Homo sapiens: one gene and its partner. The protein of the gene in region 1 purifies or fractionates together with the protein of each later gene. This does not show direct contact. Each region holds a gene or a part of one and is shown in the gene's direction. Other genes may lie near its edges. The genes, in order: MYL4 and TTC4.

Region 1 (2,946 bases):
TGAGGACTTCGTGGAGGGCCTGCGTGTCTTTGACAAGGAGAGCAATGGCACGGTCATGGGTGCTGAGCTTCGGCACGTCCTTGCCACCCTGGGTATGCCAGCTGGGCAGAGATGAAGACCAAGTGGGAGGAATGGAGGGGTGGGAGGTGCCAAGGTGACATATGCTGGTTGGGTGGGGGGTGGTATACAAGGGTCTTTGCATCCTGAGGATAATGACCTGATCCAGGCCCTGTCTCCCTGGGCTCTGCAAGAACAACCATTCCCAGTTGGGTTTGCTCAGCAGGTACCAGGGTTTGGGAGAGGAGGGGAGAGCAGGTTGGCAGAGCAGGGCTTACTACTGAGGCCTGAGAGGTGGGACTCAGGGCTTCTGTCCTTGTCTTTGCCTGAAACACTGAGGCTCTGGAAGCTGTAAGGCAGAGGGGGAGGCTTCGGAGACTAGGCAAGACCTTTAGACCCTTGGCCGCACCCTTCAGAACCTCTGGGAGAGGCTTGGTTTGAACCACCTCCCAGATCCAGGCAGTCTTGGACCTTCACACTTAAGGGGGTACTTGGGTATTGCCAGTTCCTCCTTTGCCATCTGTAATTAAGAGCGCACCACCTCCCAAACCCACCGCAGGAGAGAAGATGACTGAGGCTGAAGTGGAGCAGCTGTTAGCTGGGCAAGAGGATGCCAATGGCTGCATCAATTATGAAGGTATTAAGCCGCGCCTTGCATCCCAGGGCAGCCAGGGATGGTAGGATGGGAACAGCTTGGGTGGGGTGGGCCCAGGAGCTGGAGGGTATGTGTCTGAGGTGGGTTTTTGTAGACCCCCCATTGGATGTTGTTCTGTTCCATCTTGTGAGTGAACCTCCTAGTGTAATGGCGGGAGCATGGATTTTGGAGATAGCTCTGTGATATATTAGCTGGTGGGCTTGATTAAGTCACTGATTTTCTCTGAGCCTCAGTTTTCTCATCTGAGGGATGGGGGTGATGCTGGCACCTTTCTCAAGGCTGTGGGGATTCATAGAGATAATGTAGTTCATTCCATTTGTGTTGAGAATCAGCATAGAGAGTGGGCACAGAGCAGAGTCTAGGTATCTGCCCTCCACCCACCTTCTCCCCACCAACCCCCAAATAAGAGCAGGAACTACACAGTCTGGAGAAAGGGGAGCAGGAGGGTTAGAAGTCAGGCAGTGTAGAGAAGGGACAAGTGGTTTATGGGCCTAGAGGCGCTGAGCCACATGGTGGCTGATTTTCACTTTTTTCCTAGCCTTTGTCAAGCACATCATGTCAGGGTGAAGCAGAGTCTTCCAGGTGAGTGCAGCCTCTCCCTCCTGGTCCCTTCCGGGGTCACATAGGGCCTTAAGAATAACACCATGTGCCCTAGAAGGCATCTGTCCCAGCCCTGACCCCTTAAGAGGAAACCTCTTGGGATCAGGAAGTGAGGACAGCCCTGCTCACTCACCATCTCCTGTCTCCTGCCTGCCCTTGCCTGTTCACCCTGTCTTGACCCTATCAGTCACATCCTCTTGCCTCTCCCAGGATCTCTCAAGGCAATGCCCTTCCCTCAGGCCTGGGGCCTCCTGTACAGGCTCCTGGGAGTGAGAAAGCCGATCCCAAGTGGAAGAGAAGGTCCCTGGCCTGTGCTCTTGACCCCGTTCTTCCTCACTTCTTTCCCTAGGTTTTCCCTGGGATCCCCCTGGGTGTGGTAAGGGGCTGGGTCTAGGAGGGTGAAATGCCCTTTCCTCCTAGCACTTTCTTTCAGGTGCCTGGCCCTTGGCTTTAGCCATACCAGGGTGAGTTAAAGAGAGGCCCCGGCTGGGTGAGCTGAGATGGAGTCCTCGACTTATCACCACACCACTGCCCCAAGGACCTTACAGGCCCTCCCTGTTAATAAACAGCTCTAACACGGCCAGGCTGGGCTCTGGGATTCTGACCAGTCTCTGTTTTGTTTGTTTTTTTAAAACTAATTAACGAATTGCATTGGTTTGCGTTGTGTGTGTGTGTGTGAGAGAGAGAGAGATAAAGTCACCTGAGGCCTCATGTGTGCTCAGAGAAATGAGTAGTATCTGGGAGCTAGGAGACAAGGACAAAAGCCTGTGGATCTAGAGATATTGGGGTCAGACCCAGGAGAGCAAGCTCTGGAAGGCCAGCAGCTTGAGGAGTTGTCACCTGGAGGAGTTTTATTCCCTTTGGGCTCACCCTCTACCTAATCACACCTCCAGATGGCAGGCAGAGAGGGGCCAGGCTGAGGCAGGGACTCCTCCTTTGGTCCTTGCTCTTGCTGCTTTTAAACAAAAATTGTTGTAAAATACACATAACATGAAATTTACCATCTTAACCATTTTTAAGCATACAAGTCAGTAGAGTGAGGTATATTCACATTGTTGTGTAACTGTATTAGTCTCTTTTCATGCTACTGATAAAGACATACCTGAAACTGGGAAGAAAAAGAGGTTTAATGGATTTACAGTTCCACATGGCTGGGGAGGCCTCACAATCATGGCGGAAGGCAAGGAGGAGCAAAGGCACATCTTACATGGATGGCGGCAGGCAAAGAGAGCTTGTGCAGGGAAATTCCCCTTTTAAAAACCATCAGATCTTGTGAGACTTATTCACTATCATGAGAACAGCATGGGAAAGTTACCTCCTACTGGGTCCCTCCCACAACACATGGGAATTCAAGATGAGATTTGAGTGGGGACACAGCCAAACCATATCAGTAATGAATCTCCAGAACCTTTTCATTTCCACCAGCAGAAACACTGTACTCAATAAATAACTCCCCATTCCCTCCTTCCCCCAGCCCCTGGCAATCAGCATTCTACTTTCCATTTCTATGAATTTGACCACCCTGGATAAGTGAAATCAGACAGTGTTTGTCTTTTGTGACCGGCTTATTTCACTTAGCACAATGTCCTCGTGTTCCTTTTTTAAGGCGGAATCATGTCCCATTGTATAGGTCA
Region 2 (3,500 bases), on another chromosome or scaffold:
CGCATTTGAGCAGGCAGTAATGAGAATCATCACACTTAAGATGTATCAGTTGAGATTATCCAGTCTGAAGAACAGAATGAGAAAAGAATAAGGATGAAGAGAGACTTGTATGATGCCATCAAGCATACCAACAAAGGCATAGTGGGGGTCCTAGAAGGAGAGAAGAGAGAGAATGGGCAAAAGAATACTTGGGGAAATATTGGCCATAAACTTCCCAAATTTGGTGAAAAACACTGATGTATACATCCAAAAAGTTTAACAAACTATAAGTGGGATAAACTTAAAGTGATCTCTACCTAAACACATTATAATTAAACTGTTGAAAAACAAAGAAGAGAACCTTAAAAGCAGCAAGAGAAAAATGACTCTTTATGTACAAAAAATCCTAAGGAAAATTAACAGCTTTCTCATCAGAAGCCATGAAGGCCAAAAGGCAGGTAAATGACATATTCAAAGAGCTAAAAGAAAAAGACTGTAAGAATTCTATATCTAGCAAATCTATTCTTCAAAAATGAAAGAGTGGAAGAGAAGTAGTAGTAAAACCATCTATATGCAGACAACTTGACCGTGTATATAGAAAATCCTAAGGGATCCACTAAAAAACTCTTGGAACTAAGTTCAGCAAGCTTGTTGGAAACAACATCACCAGTACACAAAAATCATTTGTATTCTATAGATTTTTAATGAACACTCTGAAAATGAACTTAAGAAAACAATTCCATTTTAAATAGCATCAAAAAACACTTATGAGTACATTTAACAAAAGTAGCTAAAACTTATACTCTAAAAATACAAAAAACATTGTTGAAAGAAATTAAAGAAGACCTAAGTAAATAGGAAGACATCCCATGTTCATAGATTAGATCTTAATATTGTTAGATGGCAATACTCCCAAAATTAGTGTATCAATTCAGTGTAATTTTCTTTTTTGAGACATGAACTTGCTCTAATATTCAGGCTGGAGTGCAGTGGTATGATCATGGCTCGCTGCAACCTCAAACTCCTGGGCTCAAGCAGCCCTCCTGCCTCAGTCTCCCAAGCAACTGGGACTATAGGCATGTGATGCCACATCTGGCTAATTTCAGTGCAATCTGTATCAAAAGTCCAATTGGCTTCTCTGCAGAAATGGACAGGCTGATCATAATATTCACATAGAAATTCAAGGGACTCTGAATGACCAACAATCATGAAAGACAAAAAAAAAAAAAAAACAAAATTGGAAGACTCACACTTCCCAATTTCAAAACATACGACAGAGCTACAGTAATCAAGGCATTGTGGTACTGGCATAACAATAGACATATAGGTCAATGTAATAAAATTTAGAGCTCAGAAATAAGCCCTCACATTTATGGGGAATTTATTTTCAACAAGTGTGCCAAGACCATTCAATAGGGAGGTAATCTTTTCAACAAAGGATAGTGGGACAACTGGATATTCACATGTGGGAGAATGAAGCTAGAACTTTACCTCATACTATATAAAAAAGTTACCCAAAGTAGATCAAATACCCAAATGTAAGAGCTAAGACTATACAACTCTTAAAAGAAAACATAGATATGAATCTTCATGAACTTGGATATGACACAAAGCACAAGCAACAAAAGGAAAAGTAGATTGATTGCACTTCATCAAAAGTAAAAACTTTTTGCTTCAAAGGATACCATCAAAAAAATGAAAAGATAAATGTGAAGAAAAAAGTGAAAAGGGGCCAGATGCAGTGGCTCACACCTGTAATCCTAGCATTTTGGGAGGCCAGGGCAGGAGGACCACTTGAGGCCAGGAATTCGAGACCAACCTGGGCAACAAAGTGAGACCTCATCTCTACAAAAAAAAAAAAAAAAAAAAAAGTGAAAAAGCCCACAGAATGGAAGACAATATTGGTAAGTCATAAGGGACTTTTATCTACAACATATAAACAACTCTTATCATCTCAATAAGACAGGTAACTCAGTTTTTTAAATGAGGAAAGGATGTGAATAGACACTTCTCCAAAGACACACAAATGGCCAAAAAGCACATGAAAAGATGTTCAACATCATTAATAATTAGGAAATGCAAATCAAAACCATAGTAAGATACCATTGCATACCCACTAGGGTGGTTATACTTTTTAAAAAAAATCTATAGAGACAGGGTTTCTGTCACCCAGGCTATGTTTCGTAGCACTCGGATCACACGACCAGAGTAGTACATAATCCACCTGTTATACTGGCTCTTTACTTGTCTGTACCCCTCAACCCCTCAGTAGACTGTGAGTTCCTTGGGTACATACAGGAAGTAAATTTAAACTGCTGCTGCCACTGGGTCTGACATCTAGGCATGTACTTTGTAAATGTTTATTGAACTGAATCTGGCCACTGGTATTCCTTAACACAGGAGCTTGGGTTGGATAGAGGCCAGAGATAATAATTTAGGAGCAGGCTAGTGCAATAGAAGAGGAAGCCAGGTCTCTAGAGCTGATGCATCTAAATTTCATTTTTAGCGAATTGAACAGAGGGATGTGAGGAAAGCCAACTTGAAAGAAAAGAAGGAGAGGAATCAGAATGAGGCTTTACTCCAGGCCATCAAGGTGAGTTCTTAAACCTTAGGTTTTTATGGTCCTGCTAAATCCACTAATCCTGTGAAGCTTGTTGGGAACCTTTCTTGGGATGCTTTACCTGAAGGAATTTGTTCATTTTCTTTCTACTTTGGTAAAGCAGTGTGACAGAGGAGACCAGGCTCTGGAGTCAGGCCACCCCAGTTCAGTCAGCTCTCTCATGTGCATGTGTTGGTCTCAGTAACATATACAGTTGTCTCCACTTACCTGAAGCAGATGTATTCCAGGATCCACAGTGGATGCTTGAAATCTCAAATAGTTCCAAACCTGATTGCCATCAGTCAGAACACATTTCTGTTTGTGTCTTCCACCCACAAATATAATGCCTTTTCTATCTTAGCTAAAGCACTTATCACACACTGTGGCCATAATTTTTGCAGTTTGAGGTACATCAGCAACAGCAAAACTAGCATGAATTTCTTTTTCCTTCTTTGTAATTTCACAGATAGAAGGTTGCTCTTACCATAGATCTTAGCAACCTCAGCATACAATTTTTCTTCTAATTAAGTTGAGAAATTTCACCTTTTTACTTAAAGGAGGTAGTTTATAGCTTCTATTTGGCATATCCGAATTGCCAGCATCAGTACTCTTGTGCTTTGGGGTCCTTATTAAGTAAAATGAGTGTTACTTAATACAGGGACTGTGATACCATGACAGTCAATCTGATCATTGAGATGGGTGCTAACTCACAGGTGGGTATCATCTACAGCGTGGATGTGCTGGCCAAAGAGCAGAGCCCGTGATTTCATCATCTGCTACTCAGTGCATAATTTAAAACTTACAGGTTGTTTATTTCTGGAATTTTTCATTTAATATTTTCAGACCATGGTTGACCACTGGTAACTGAATCTGTGGAAAGCAAAACCGTGGATAAGGGGACACTACTGTACTGAATACCTGC

Evidence for each region.
Region 2: the proteins of MYL4 (region 1) and TTC4 purify together in Homo sapiens (co-immunoprecipitation; one large-scale study listed by IntAct). This does not show direct contact.

What each region holds. Positions count from the first base shown.
Region 1 is NC_000017.11:47,221,764-47,224,709, forward strand, and holds the end of MYL4 (myosin light chain 4), read left to right. Parts: coding exon 1-92; intron 93-616; coding exon 617-694; intron 695-1,250; coding exon 1,251-1,279; 3' UTR 1,280-1,294; intron 1,295-1,745; 3' UTR 1,746-1,916; downstream 1,917-2,946. UniProt on the Homo sapiens protein: Regulatory light chain of myosin. Does not bind calcium.
Region 2 is NC_000001.11:54,725,861-54,729,360, forward strand, and holds part of TTC4 (tetratricopeptide repeat protein 4), read left to right. Parts: intron 1-2,485; coding exon 2,486-2,572; intron 2,573-3,500.